2 separate regions of the Homo sapiens genome follow, and region 2 is linked to region 1. The links come from fine-mapping of genetic effects on gene expression. Tissue or cell type: unexposed skin. Region 1 holds a variant in brackets; the other region holds the start of a gene. All regions are shown on one strand. Distances are between the middles of the regions.

Region 1 (8,491 bases):
TATCCTCTGGATCTATCCCCATTACCCCTTTTTGCTTCTAGGTCTACAACTAGACTCAAGTCCCAGCAGGTCCCAAAGGATGAGGTAAAAAGTGTGACACATAAAGAGTTGTGCTATGCTCAGAAAGAACTGCATTATTTTCCAAATGATAGAGACAGAAATCTGAGAAAATATGTAGTAATTGATATTAAGAGTGTCAGATAAACATGAAAAGAACACAAGTTGTATCAGGGCTGAATCAGGCTTAGAGAGGTTGGAATATTAGAGTGGATTTTTTTAGGTAAGTACTGCTCAGCCACATAGGAAGGGTCAGAAGACACCTCTGTCACCATGACTGTGAGAAATAAATTCATGAGAGAAGCCACAGAATCCTTGAAGGGCTCTGTGGTCACTCTTTGTAGGTCAGGAATTACAGTGGGAACTGCTGCCACTGAACTGAGATCCTTAGATACAATCAGGTACTGGAGCCTGAGGTGGCAAGGGCCAAATGGTGGCACTTCATTATCAAAGACAAGGTGGCCATGGTTACCATAATGTACAGCTGAGTCAAAGAAGTACTCAGAATAGTCTGACTCACAGTCAGTCATTGGCTAGTTGATCATGAAATACCCCGATGAGCAACAGATGGGAGGTCTGATAAATTCTTACTTGATGTGTATAAGCAGAAGAATTCTAAGTCAAGTACACAGAAGTCTAATAAAAATTATCAAAAGATAGAATTGTGGCCCTTTGATCAAAACTGGATGTATCCAGTTTTCAGACCCAGAATCACTTACATAAAGGGGAGAACATGTGCCCTTAAAGAAGTGGAAACTCCCAGAATATTATTCTATTTATCTTCCTCCCAGCCTTCCCCAAAGGGACTTATGGCCTTTTATTAAGGTGATTGTGCATGGAGGAAAAGGAAATAACCAGACTTTTTGGGGATTATGAGACACTGGGTCTGAACTGACACTAATTTGAGGAGATCCAAAATGCCACTGTGATCCACTAGTCACAGTAGGGGCTTATGGAGGTCAGGTGATGAACGGAGTTTTAGCTCATGTATATCTTAGTGGGTCCAGTGTGTCACCAAACCCATCCTGTCATTATTTTTCAGTACCAGAATGCATAATTGTAAAAGACATACTCAGTGACTGGCACAATTTCCACACTGGTTTCATAACTTGCAGAGTAAGGGCTGCTATGATAGGAAAGGTTAAGTGGAAGCCACAAGATCTGCTTCTACTTAGGAAGATAGTAAATAAAAAGTAGTATTGCATTCCTGGAGGGATTGCAGAGATTATTGCTACCATTAAGGACTGAAGGATGCAAGGGTGGTGATTCCTAACATAGTCCAATTCAATTCACCTATTTGGCTATTTCAGAAAACAGATCTTTGAAGATAGCAGTGAATTATTGTAAACTGAACCAGGTGATGACTCTAATTGCAGCTGCAATTCCAGATGTGGTTTCATTCTGTGAGCAAATTAAGTCGTCCCTTGGTACTGATACGCAGCTACTCATCTGCAATTTTTTCTCCATATCTGTCAGTAAAAAACACCAGAAGTATTTTGTTTTCAGCTGGTGAGGCTGGAAATACACCTTCCTTGTCTTACCTTTGGGGTATATTGACTCTCCAGCTCTATGCCATAATTTAGTCAACAGGATGTTGATTGCCTTTCCCTTCCATGAGACATCACACTGGTCCATCACATAGAAGACATTGTGCTCCTTGGATCCAGAGAGCCAGAAGTGCAGCTACTGTAGACTAATTGTTAAGACATTTGCATGTTCAGAGGTTGGGAAATAAATCCAGTTAAAATTCAGGGATCTTTCACCTCAGTGAAATTTCCAGGGGTCTCGTGATGTGGTACATGTCAAGATATCCTTTCTAGAGTGAAGAAAATATTGCACCTGGCCCCTCCTACAAACAAAAATAGGTACAATGCCTACTGGGCCTCTTTGGATTTTAGAGACAATATATTCATCATTCAGGTGTGATACTTGAAATATTTATTGAGGGACCTGAAAACCTAGTTATGAGTGAGACCCAGAGCAAGAGAAAGCTCTGCAACCGGTCCGAGCTGTTCTGCCTTTTGGGTCATATGGTTCAGCAGATCCAATGATGCTATCCAGTGGCAGATAGCCATGCTGTTTGGAGCCTTGGGCAGGCCTGTAGAGGTGAATTGCAGCACAGACCCTTCAGATTTTGAAACAAAATTCGGCCATCTTTGTCAGATAACTGTTCTTTTCTGAGAAACAACTTTTGGTTTATTATTGGACCTCAGAAGAAATTGAATGCTTAACTGTCAGCTACCAAGTTACATGAAACTTTAGCTGCCCACCATAAACTGAGTATTGCCTGACCCATCAAGCCAGAAAATTGGGCATTCATAGTCACACTCCATTATCAAATGTATGTGATATGTATGATATTAGGTTTCAGCAAGACCTTAAGGCATAGATAAGTTACATGAAAAAGTGGCCTAAATGCCCATGGTCCCTACTCCTGCTACACTGCCTTTTCTTCTACACAGCCTGCACCTATGGCCACATGGAAAGTTCTACATGATCACTTGCCATAAAAGTAGAAGACTTGGTCCTGGTTTACAAATGTTTCTGCACAATATGAGGACACCATCTGAAAGTGGACAGCTACAGCACTACAGCCCTTTTCTGGGATATCCCTGAAGGACACTGGTGAAGGGAAAATCCTCCCAGTGGGCAAAACTTTGAGCAGTGCATTTTGTTGTTCACTTTTTTTGGAAGGAGATATCACCAGATATGTGATTATATACCAATTCATGGTATGTGACCAAAGGTTTGGCTGGATGGTCAGGGATTTGGAAAGGGCATAATTAGAAAATCAGTGACAAGGGGATCTGGGGAAAAGGCCCTTGGATAGACAATTTTTTTTAATAATTGGAAAACATGAAATTATTGTTATCCCATGTGAGTGCTCACCAAAGGGTGACCTGAGCAGACGTGGATTTTAATAAGGTGGATAGGATGACCCAATCTGTGGCTAACAGTCAACTTCTTTCCCCAGGCACTGCTCTCATTTTCCAATGGATTTAGGAAGAAAATGGCTAAAGTGGAAGGGATGGAGGTTATACCTGGGGTCAGCAACATGAACTTTCACTCACCAAGGCTGACATGGCTACAGTCACTGCAGAGTGTCCCATCTGTCAGCAGCACAGAACAACACTGAGCTCCCAATATGGCACCATTTACTGAAGTGATTAGCCAAGTACCCACTGGTAGGTTGGTTACAGCAGACCACTTTCCTTGTGGAAAGGGCAGTGTTTTGTTCTTACTGGAATAAATACATTGTTTTTGTTTTTATTTTTTTTTTGTTTCAATAGCTTTTGTGGTACAAGGGGGTTTCTGTTACATGGATGAATTATATAGTGGTAAATTCTGAGTGTACCTGTCACCTGAGTAGTGTTCATTGTACCTAATGTGTACTTTCTTTTTTAATCCCTAACTGCCTTCCAACCCTCCCCCTTCTGAGTCTCTAAAGTCCATTATATCACTTTGTATGCCTTTGTGTACTCATAGCTTAGCTCCCTCTTATAAGTGAGAACATACGGTTTTTGGTTTTTCATTCCTGTGTTACTTCACTTAGAATAATGGCCTCCAGCTCCATCCAACTTGCAGCAAAAGACATTATTTCATTCCTTTTTAATGGATGAATTGTATTCCATGCTGTATATATTACCACATTAGAATAAACAATTTGGATATGGATGCATGCACTGCTTCTACCAAAACTACCATTCATGACTTACAGAATGCCTTTCTACTATCATGCAATTCCACACAGCATTGCTTCTGATGAAGAAATCACTTAACAACAAATGAAGGGTAGCAACGAGCCCGTGCCTACAGAATTCACTGGTGTTATTATTTCCCCAACCTCCTAAAGTTGATGACTTGATAGAATAGTGGAACAGCCTTTTGAAGACTCAGTTATTGTGCCACCCAAATCACAATACCATGCAGGGCTGGGGGCAGTGTTCTCCAGAAGGCTGGTTATGCTGTAAATCAACATTCAATTTATGGTGCTGCTTCTTCCATAGCCAAGATGTGTAGGTTCAGGAATCAAGGAGTGAAAATGAGAGTGGCAAAACTCACTGTTACTTTTAGTGATTCATTAGAAAAATTTGTACATTCTGTGCCTGCGACCTTATGCTCTGCTGAAAGTTAAAATGGCTACCTGGCCACTTTGGATTCTGTACACCTGTGAGTCAATAGGCAAAGCAGTATTTATGGTTTGAGAAGAACTTTCCAGGCATTATGGTGGCAGAGATCAAGATGAACTGTGCCCAGGGCATCTCTTAAATATGTATGAGTAGATAAGACATGTAAAAAAAATGAGCATTGTATAAAAAGTGACCCATAATCAAGTAAATGTTTACAAGAGGAAAAGTACATTTTGTGCTGGGTTAGTTAGCAAAAGT[C/A]TTGCTAATTGTGTGATACTTTAGCTATGTCACAAATATTGAGTTTATTACCACATCCCCAAACTCTGAATTCCAAACTAATGGACACTTGCAATTTGGCCTAGATATGAGTGTATGGACACTTATTGTTTTTTCATATATCTCTTTCATGGTTCAAGGGAGTCTGGTTTTCCCAAATACCAACTCTAATTACTTTGGTGACTAAAGCTTGAGGTGCCTTAAGCAGATACACTAAGTAGGATCTATATGCAGGCATATTTTTTTGTCTGGATGTACTTTTTTAAAACCAATTATTTATATATCACATAGTGAATCAGAGTAGGAGAATTAGTCCATGTTTTGTGTCAAATGACCTATCTTAATAAGTAAAGAACTGGGACCAAGTTCTTGAACAGGAACCTCTTTTTAATTGTCACATTTGTCTCACTAGCATTGAAATGGAGCACAAGAACTTTTGGGGATTGAAAAGGAGGAAAAATGATATAAGGGGGTATAGATATTTGTAGGCAGAGTGTGTACTGTAGGATTTGGTTTTGAAAAGTTCTAGTGGAGGAATAAGACAGGACTTGAGCTGGAAATGGAGGGGGGCATAAAACAAGTATCTTGGAAACTCACTCATTTTTAGTGGAATTTTCCCAATACTTTATTTCCTTCCTTATTTCTCTTTCTTGTATGACTTTGTTGATTGCAAAATCCAAAATATACCTTTCCTTGCTCCTCCTTTCCTTCCTTTCTAGGTACTGTGGAGGACGAGAATGAAGTAACAAAAATGGTCTCAGCCCACAGACTCCGGAAGTTTCTTCCTAAATGCTGTTTTCATTCTTTGAAGATCAAAGAAAGGACCTGGAAACATCCTTTCAGCACCTCTAAAGGAGCTCTGCTCAATTCAGGCAAGTGCTTTCTTAAAATGGCTTAATGGCAAAAGCAGTCTCTAATTTTATCTATTACTTCCTAAAATGGGGATGTAAATTTAAAAGTCTTACTCTCTGAATATGGGGAAGTAAAATTAGGGGTTAGTGGTGATACTTTCCATCATTTTGGGCACCAGAAAAATCTACTTTGACAGGAATACTGTCCCAGTGCTTGCCAATACCACAGCTACTGCCAGAAGGGCAGAAAGATCTTAAACAGAGAGTTTGACTAAGAGATTAAACAGAACCAGGAGGAGAGCCAGGAAATAAACAGTGCTAAGTGGTTCTTTTTTTTTTTTTAATGTAAAGGAAGATTGCCAGGAAGAATGATTTATGAGATGGAGATGGAGAAAAGAAAAATGAAATACAAAAGGTATATGATTTTCAGTACTTAACACTAAATATTTGGCTAATCCTGGGAAAGATAAACTTATGTTGTGATTGTTTGAGACAGACTGAAGGCACAGTTGCACTGGTCTCTATAGAAAACCAACTCCACATAAACTCATTTTCCAGGAATTGGTAAAAAGAAACAGTTTAACATGGGTTTAGCTTTATTATAACTACTCAATTATAGAAAGTAAACATTATATATGTTCAGTATGCTTTTTAAAAGAAGGGGCAAACTGAGCAAGATATTTAAAAATGTCCTATAAAATATTTTTATGGGCAAATTTTGATTCTTAAGGAGCTGAACTTTCTAGACAATTACATATTCGGAATACCCTTTTTCTGAAGACATTGGATATCTGAGCTGTTACATAATTTGTCCATAAACTTTCCAATCACCATTGGTAAGACTATCTCTTATTCTTATTTGTATTCTTAAGGAAATATGCCCTTACTGCATATTCCCCTTGAGCTGTGTATTTATTACTCCTTTCTCCTTCAATAGCTCCCCTTGTTAACTTGGGTATAGATTTACTACTAAGACTTTGTATTTTCATTCCCATTATTTTACTTTTCTACTACCTGGTTCTTAAAACTTGACATTACAGTTACTGTTGGAAAATGTTTTCTTAAATGTGTGAAATAGAGGCATGAAGCATCACTTTTCTGAACTCTGTTTCAAGGAGTTTATTTAAAAATAGATGCATATATAGTGGGATACTGTAATTAAACTTGAATAAATAGAAATTTGATTATATGCTGAATTCTGGCCAGAAACTTATATAGTTAAAAAAAGTTTAATTCTGAAGAATGTCAAATTGGTAGGTTTCTGTAGGCAAAAACAGGCAGTCTTTACTTTCTGCCAGCATCTGTCCCTGGATACTAAATATAAAGCAGAATGTGGTAAAAATTTTCTCATTGACATTATATTACACTTGAGGATTGAATTTATGACCAAAACATTGACACTGAATAGAGCTTATACTTGACAATCAGTATGTTAGGAAAAAAAGATACTAGAAACCTTTCTGGTTTTCAAAATAGAAATAGTATAAATGAGTATATAGTGTGCACATTTGACTATAAAATGTCAAAGTGTGTGAAGACATATATACTTAGTACTAAAATTTGTATTCAATATCAGAAATGTGACCTACAAGAAGCTTTCACAATTTCAGATATTCAATTATGCTTAAAATAGAACCATTCATTCTTTCACTCAACAAATATGTATTACTTACTATATGAAAGAGAGCATCCTAGGCTCATGTCATGGAACAAAACAAAAATCTCTGCTGTTGTGAAGCTCATATCCCAGTGAATGGAATGGAAAATAATTACACAAGTGAAATATGTAGTATGTAAGGTGGTGATAAGTTCTACAAAGAAACAAATAAAGCATGAAAAAAGAGTATGTAATAGTGAGAGGAGGCGTACATTTAAATTTTATATAAAGTGGATTAATTGAGAAGGAGAATTTTGATTTGAGTGAATTTCTGAAGAAGGTAAGAAAACAAGACATGAAGAAAAAAGAATATTTCAGATTAGAAGAGCATTAGTTATTATTTAGGCCTTATTTTACAGATTAAAAATCTGAGGCCCAAATTACTCACTCAGGCTGGATTCCTAATTCTGTCTTCTGGATGAGGATTTGTTTCTTGTGAAAAGCGTAATTTGAGCAGAAGCCAGAAATAACAGAAGTTAGTTTTAAATAGCAATATTTTCCTAGTCTGAAGCAATACTGAACAGGAGGTTTTAGCCTGGAAATTTGGGTCTGCTTTTTGTAGTTGAGTTAAATACGATGCTTCTGTAACTCCAAAATGAAGTCTGAGTTGCTGCAGAGAAGTATCATGGTTCTGCACTTATTTATGACAGGTCAAAATGACTTACAAACAATTTGGAGTGTGATCTCTAGTGCTAAGAAAAACAGCAAGAAAAGGCAACAATATCCTATGTCAAAAAATATTTCTGCAATATAGGATCAGGCTCTTAGATGGAAATTCTGGTTGACCAAATTGCCTGTCATGGTTTTTCAAGATTCAGATCTGAGACCAAGACTCTCCAGTGATGTCTGAATGTTTAAGATGTTTTCTAATTTAGAGAAAAACCTAGATTATTAAGCATAGTTTTTGCTTTTGGTGCCCTACAATATGTTTGGCATCTTGTAAACCTGGGGATAGCCACAAAGAGTTCATTCTTGGGTTATCTTTGTGATGATCACCTGTAGGCAGTTACTTTACCTTTGATTTTTCAAAAGCCACTAACAAGCCATGTGACCCTGAGACGAGTCCCTTCTACTGTTTGGATCTCAGATTCATCATCTGTACCATCAATAGGGTTGGGCTATAATTTCTAAGAGGACTTACAATACTGAAATTACAGGATTCTGGTTTTATTCAAACGAGAGATATTCTTTTTAAGAAGATTAATAAAAACATACTTTATAATTCCCTGGAAATTAAAAAAAAATACCATACACAGAAACACTCTTCTACCAATGTTGTTTACCCAATTTAGGCCTTTATGTATGTTTTCTTCTGAATAGCTATAATGATTTGCCATTCTAGATCAGTTATTCTTTTTTGTTTTTTTTAAGACAGAGTCTCACACTGTCACCCAGGCTGGAGTGCAGTGGCCTGATCTGGGCTCCCTGAAACCTCCGCCTCCTGGGTTCAAGTGATTCTCCTGCCTCAGCCTCCCAAATAGCTGGGATTACAGGCGCCTGCCACCACATCCAGCTAATTT
Region 2 (5,000 bases), 200 kb before region 1:
TCTCCCCATGCAGTCAGTTTTGTTATATGTTTATCCACCTGGAATGAATGGAATTTAAACAAAATCCTTCTGATGGTGGTTTGTATTTTCAAGTCGCTTTCAGATTTTATATTTATCATTTTAAGAGATTTAGAAAATATTCCTATCAGCTCATTACTGCATTAGATACACAAAGGAACCAAGAAATACTAATGGCTGTTAACTTGCCAGAGAACACCCAGTTGTTTACATGTCAAAACAAGGGTGAACTCCCAGTTATCCCAGTTACCCCGTTTCTCTCCCATTGAAATCCATGCAGCAAGATAGTTTAGAGCAGCCACTGTTAGGTGTTAGGAACATGAGAATAACAAAATGGACCAAAGTAGAGGTCCATACAGGGCAATGTTATTTGGGAGATTATGATAGTTACCATTCATAGTATTGAATTCACAAGGTTGGGTATGTACCTTAAGAATCAGCACCTTCCCTTTATTATCCTTTATTATTGGTCAATTATACTGAAAATACAAATTTATAATTTTCTATACTGTGGAAGAGTCTTGCTTTTATGACAGATAAATAGTTTCTAAATGCATCAAAATTTCATTAAGGGGAGGTAGTAGAAAATGAGAATTGATGATTCTTGATTAGGAATACACTAACATGCTAGATTAAGTCTAAAAGCAAATAGCAAACTTTTCTTAACCTACCATTATCTGTGTGCTTACTGGCTCCCAAACTGACTTATTTTATTTGGAGGAACCCTGATTGGCTGGTGTAGTCAATACTTAGGGGAACTGGGGAAAATTTTTTTATCATGGATGAATGTAAATATAGCACTTGAGGTTGTTTATGATGTAAAAACAGATAGCTTTTAGTTCTAATTGAGCCATTAATAGTAAAACAACAACAGAAAACATTTCTGAATGATTAAGACTTCTGTAATAAAGTTAAAATTGTCTTGTAACAAATTTTCCTAATGTATTTTAAATGTAATACAGTCCTTTGTATTTTATAATGCATTGTAAAAATATAAATATTTTTGTTTTTAAAACAGTGTACAATCTAGTCCAGATTTAGTTACAATTTCTTTTAAAATAATCATTTGTTAGACATATGGTATCATAGTTTCTCTCTAGGTTTCAAAATAATCAGAATACTGGAAAGCAGAACCACTGAATTCAGTAGGTGGAACTTACAAACCCATTTGTTTCCTCTTGAAAACAGCCTTTTTTGTCGCTAAGTAGAAAAATGTTCCTGGCTAAAGATTTTATTAAAATGTATGAATCTTTGGCTCTGTGTAAACTTAGTCTACACCAGATGTGTCTGAGTTACTAAATAGATCATGCAATTTTCTTCTATTCATTTATAGTTGAGAGAGCTTTATTTTTACAGTCTCTGGCCAGAACTGGCCATTTTCTAGTTGTACGGTGTGTTTCAAGAAAATTTTTTAGCCTCTCTGAGTCAATTTTCTCATTCATAAACATGGACAGTAACACCTACCTTGTCTAAATTATAGGATGTTGAAAGGTTCAGGTGGGATAACAAATGTGAAACTACCTTGTGAAAATTTTACTCTCCACTGGTTTACCTTCAGTAATTACTACATATTTATTTTCCATATTGAAGGAAAATGTCACTACATTAGAGAAACTCCACTGAACCCTCAAAATGGGGATTTGAAAATGTATCTTACATTTCTGGCTTAAATTACAAAGGCACAGGAGGTTTGCGGAGTGTGTCTCCTCTGTATTTTGCCACGTTGAGCCCTAGCAGAAGCACTGAGCAATATTTGTTGACAGACTGATCATATTATCAGATTTCTGGCTAAGAAATAAAGCAGAAAGAATTCATACTAGCACCCAAACTTAAAGCAGGCAAGGCAGATAACTTATCCCCAAACTCCTGGGAATTTGCTAAAATTTACCATCAGCAACATTTTACTACATACTGTTCTGGTCTTAGTACTGAATACTGAGTCTCCTTACCTGCTAACTTCAAGGTCCACAGTTTACTGTCCTTTTGCGTTTGTTCTCAGAAGCAAGCTCCAAGTCTTCAGTAAATTCGATCTACCAGTCCTTGCAATTAATCCTTGTTGGCGAGCTGCACAGTATCTTGATACCCTGTAGGGTCGTAAAAGCACAGTCCATTCACAGAGTGCCTGCTCTATAGGCAAGCTTCTTTGCAAAGATGGGTTGCTGCTATTTTTAAGAGGGGAGAGAGCAGGGCACATTTGCTAGCCAATATATACAGATATACAGATTCTTCTTCCTCTTTCAGATTAGCCTTCAAACTGTTAAAGCACTCCCGGAGTCTGACTTCTCTGGTGCAAAGTGGGGGAGGGGAAGGGTCAAAGAGGAAGGAAGAATAGAAACTGGAGACTTGCAGGTTGCGTGTATGTATAAATAAACTTTTCTTCCTAGCTTCAGGAATAGAATTCTCAGGAAATTATTCAGCTGCTCTAAGATGGGAAGCAGGGACGAGTGTTCTCTCTTCAGCTTAGTTCTCTGTGATTTCTGTGACTGTGAGGTCATTAGACTATTTGTAGGTGGGGAAAGATAATCCTGCCAGTATATGCTAATATAACTGGCATTATGTGAAACTTGATCTTAAGTAACATAAATTTCATCTCTCCGTTTCTCTCTCTCTCTCCTTAATGACACTTGTGGCTCTATCCACATTCTAAAAAGCCTTTTCCTTTCTGGTTCCTTTTTGAGCTTTGTTTCCTGAAATCTTCATAACAATAAATTGCCTCCATTGGATTAAAACTGTTGTTTTCTTTTTTTGTCCCACTGAAGATGATCTGGAATGACTGGGCTTGCTGTCAATGGTCCTGTGTTGGAAATTTGGGGGATCAGGCAAGTGTTCTTGGCCTTTGGCTAGGCTCTGAGGTGTTAGAGCTGTGGGGTGCTCAATATGGCTTCTGGAGAAAAGGGACATAGCAGTCTGGTATGTGCTGATTGAAGCCTGGGGCAGCACTTTGATGTTAAAAACCAAATTGGTAAGATCATGATGTGAATTTGTTACATCAATTATCTTGAGTTATATTAAGAAGATTCTATATGGAGATGGGCATAAATATGTTGATGTTAACACTTTGTAAACATGCCCCATAACTAACAACTAGTTTTAGGTACTTGTAAAATATGAGCCCAGCAGTAGCCTTCTGGCTTGCTACCTGCTGTAGGAACAAAGTCATTTACTCAAATTTTGTATCTTTAGGTACAAGAATTACCTCACAACCAACCTGGGACAATCGCTTTAAGGCCCTTGAATCTTTATCTCTTTTCACAGAGTTCTGGATTGTGGTGGTGATGGTGATAGTTGGAGGAAAAGGCTATCCAACCACATTTGAAGGGATGTTAACATTTGGATTCAAGACTAGACTTTCTAATCCTCTCCTAGGGAGTTTTAGTAACTAAACTGACATTCAAACTAGTATTTCTTCAACTGAGTTTGGATCCCCAAATATCTACAGGAAAATTTATAAGTGAGACACAGAGTGAATTATCACTTTTCCTCCAGTCTGAAATGTTACAGCCATTTTGAGCTACAGTGGAAGGGCAATTCATACTCAGGAAATGAAGAAAAGAGAAAGGAGCTAGATCCTTTGTGGGGATAAGAGAGATCAGATTGTTACTGTGTCTATGTAGAAAAGGAAGACACAAGAAATTCCATTTTGATCTGTACCAGGAAAAATTGTTTCTGCTTTGATACCATACCCCAGCACAACACCCGTAAAGGGTCTCTGCTGAGGAGGAGTAGTGAAAGAGGGAGGTCTCTTTGCAGTTGAGATAAGAGGAAGGCTTCTGTCTCCTGCTCCTCCCTGGGAATGGAATGTCTCCTGTAAAGCCAACCATTCCCATTCTTTCTATTCTGAGATAGGATAAAACCGCCCTGTGGCTAGAGGCGAGATATGCTGGCAGAAATACTGCTCTGTTACTCTTTGCTACACTGAGGTGTTTGTATAAAGTGAAACATAAATCTGGCCTACATGCACATCCAGGCACAGTACCTTTCCTTGAATTTATGCATGATACAGATCCTTTGCTCACGTTTTCCTGCTGACCTTCTCCCCACCTGTTGCTCTGCTACACTCCCCTTGCCAAGATAGTAAAAATAATGATCAATAAATACTGAGGGAACTCAGAGACCAGCGCTGGTGCAGGTCCTCACATGCTGAGGCTGCCGGTCCCCTGGGCCCACTGTTCTTTCTCTATACTTTGTCTCTGTGTCATTTCTTTTCTCAGTCTCTCGTACCACCTGATGAGAAATACCCACAGGCGTGGAGGGGCAGGCCCCCTTCAATCCTTGAGCTTCAAGTTGGCACCGAAATAGCTGTGGCAGAGAGGGTGTTTCCTGTGGTTCTTCTTTGTGCTCCCCTACCTGTTTCTTTCATTAGCTAATTTTCTGTTCTTGAGCAATGGGGAAGGCAGTGATTCACCCATTCCCAAATGGGTCTTTGCCTTGTACAGCTGGATCAATTTACACCACATTTGCTATAAATGACATCAGACTCCTTGTCTCCTTGCTTCATCTCTTTATCTTTTCTCTTCCCATCCATCCATCTTCATTACATATCTACTCTCACATTCTCTTTCACTTTAGGAAAGGTTGAAGTGCCCAGAATGATACCTGTCTGCTGCTGTCTCTCTACTCTTGCTCATTTTCCCAGACTCCTTCAGTTCTTACTTTCTTATTGAGGTAAGGAAGACCAAATAGGGAGTGGTGAGGGAGAGGGGGGATAACATGTAGTTGGATGGGAAATCTGTCTCAATGAAGTAAGACTTGGGTAGCAAGATAAAGAATTTTCAGTCACAACAGCGTTCACACGTAAGTGACAGGATTCATAGCTTATGTGGACTCAGAGCTGAAAGAGGTAATGAAAAATCATCATCTGGTTCAGACTTTATATTAAATTGAATTTGTGAGGGTATGACATGTCTGATTCATCATTGTGTCCTCAGCTGTTAGCTCATTGCCTTGTTTGGTTTGTTGAATAAATAAATCTAGTCCAACCC

What was found. PIP is the estimated chance that this variant, and not a neighbour inherited with it, causes the effect.
Region 2: it holds the start of CYSLTR1, and the variant in region 1 is fine-mapped to the expression of CYSLTR1 in unexposed skin (GTEx, PIP 0.94).

The regions. Positions count from the first base shown.
Region 1 is chrX:78,526,968-78,535,458 of GRCh38, forward strand. No RefSeq gene overlaps it. Among named protein-coding and RNA genes, the nearest start is that of RTL3, 130 kb to the right of the region's middle. The variant C/A (reference allele first, on the strand shown) is at 4,446.
Region 2 is chrX:78,325,338-78,330,337 of GRCh38, forward strand. CYSLTR1 (cysteinyl leukotriene receptor 1) reads right to left here and starts at 2,274. Exons shown (of 3, transcript NM_006639.4): 1 at 1,968-2,274. RefSeq lists an enhancer at 2,446-2,495.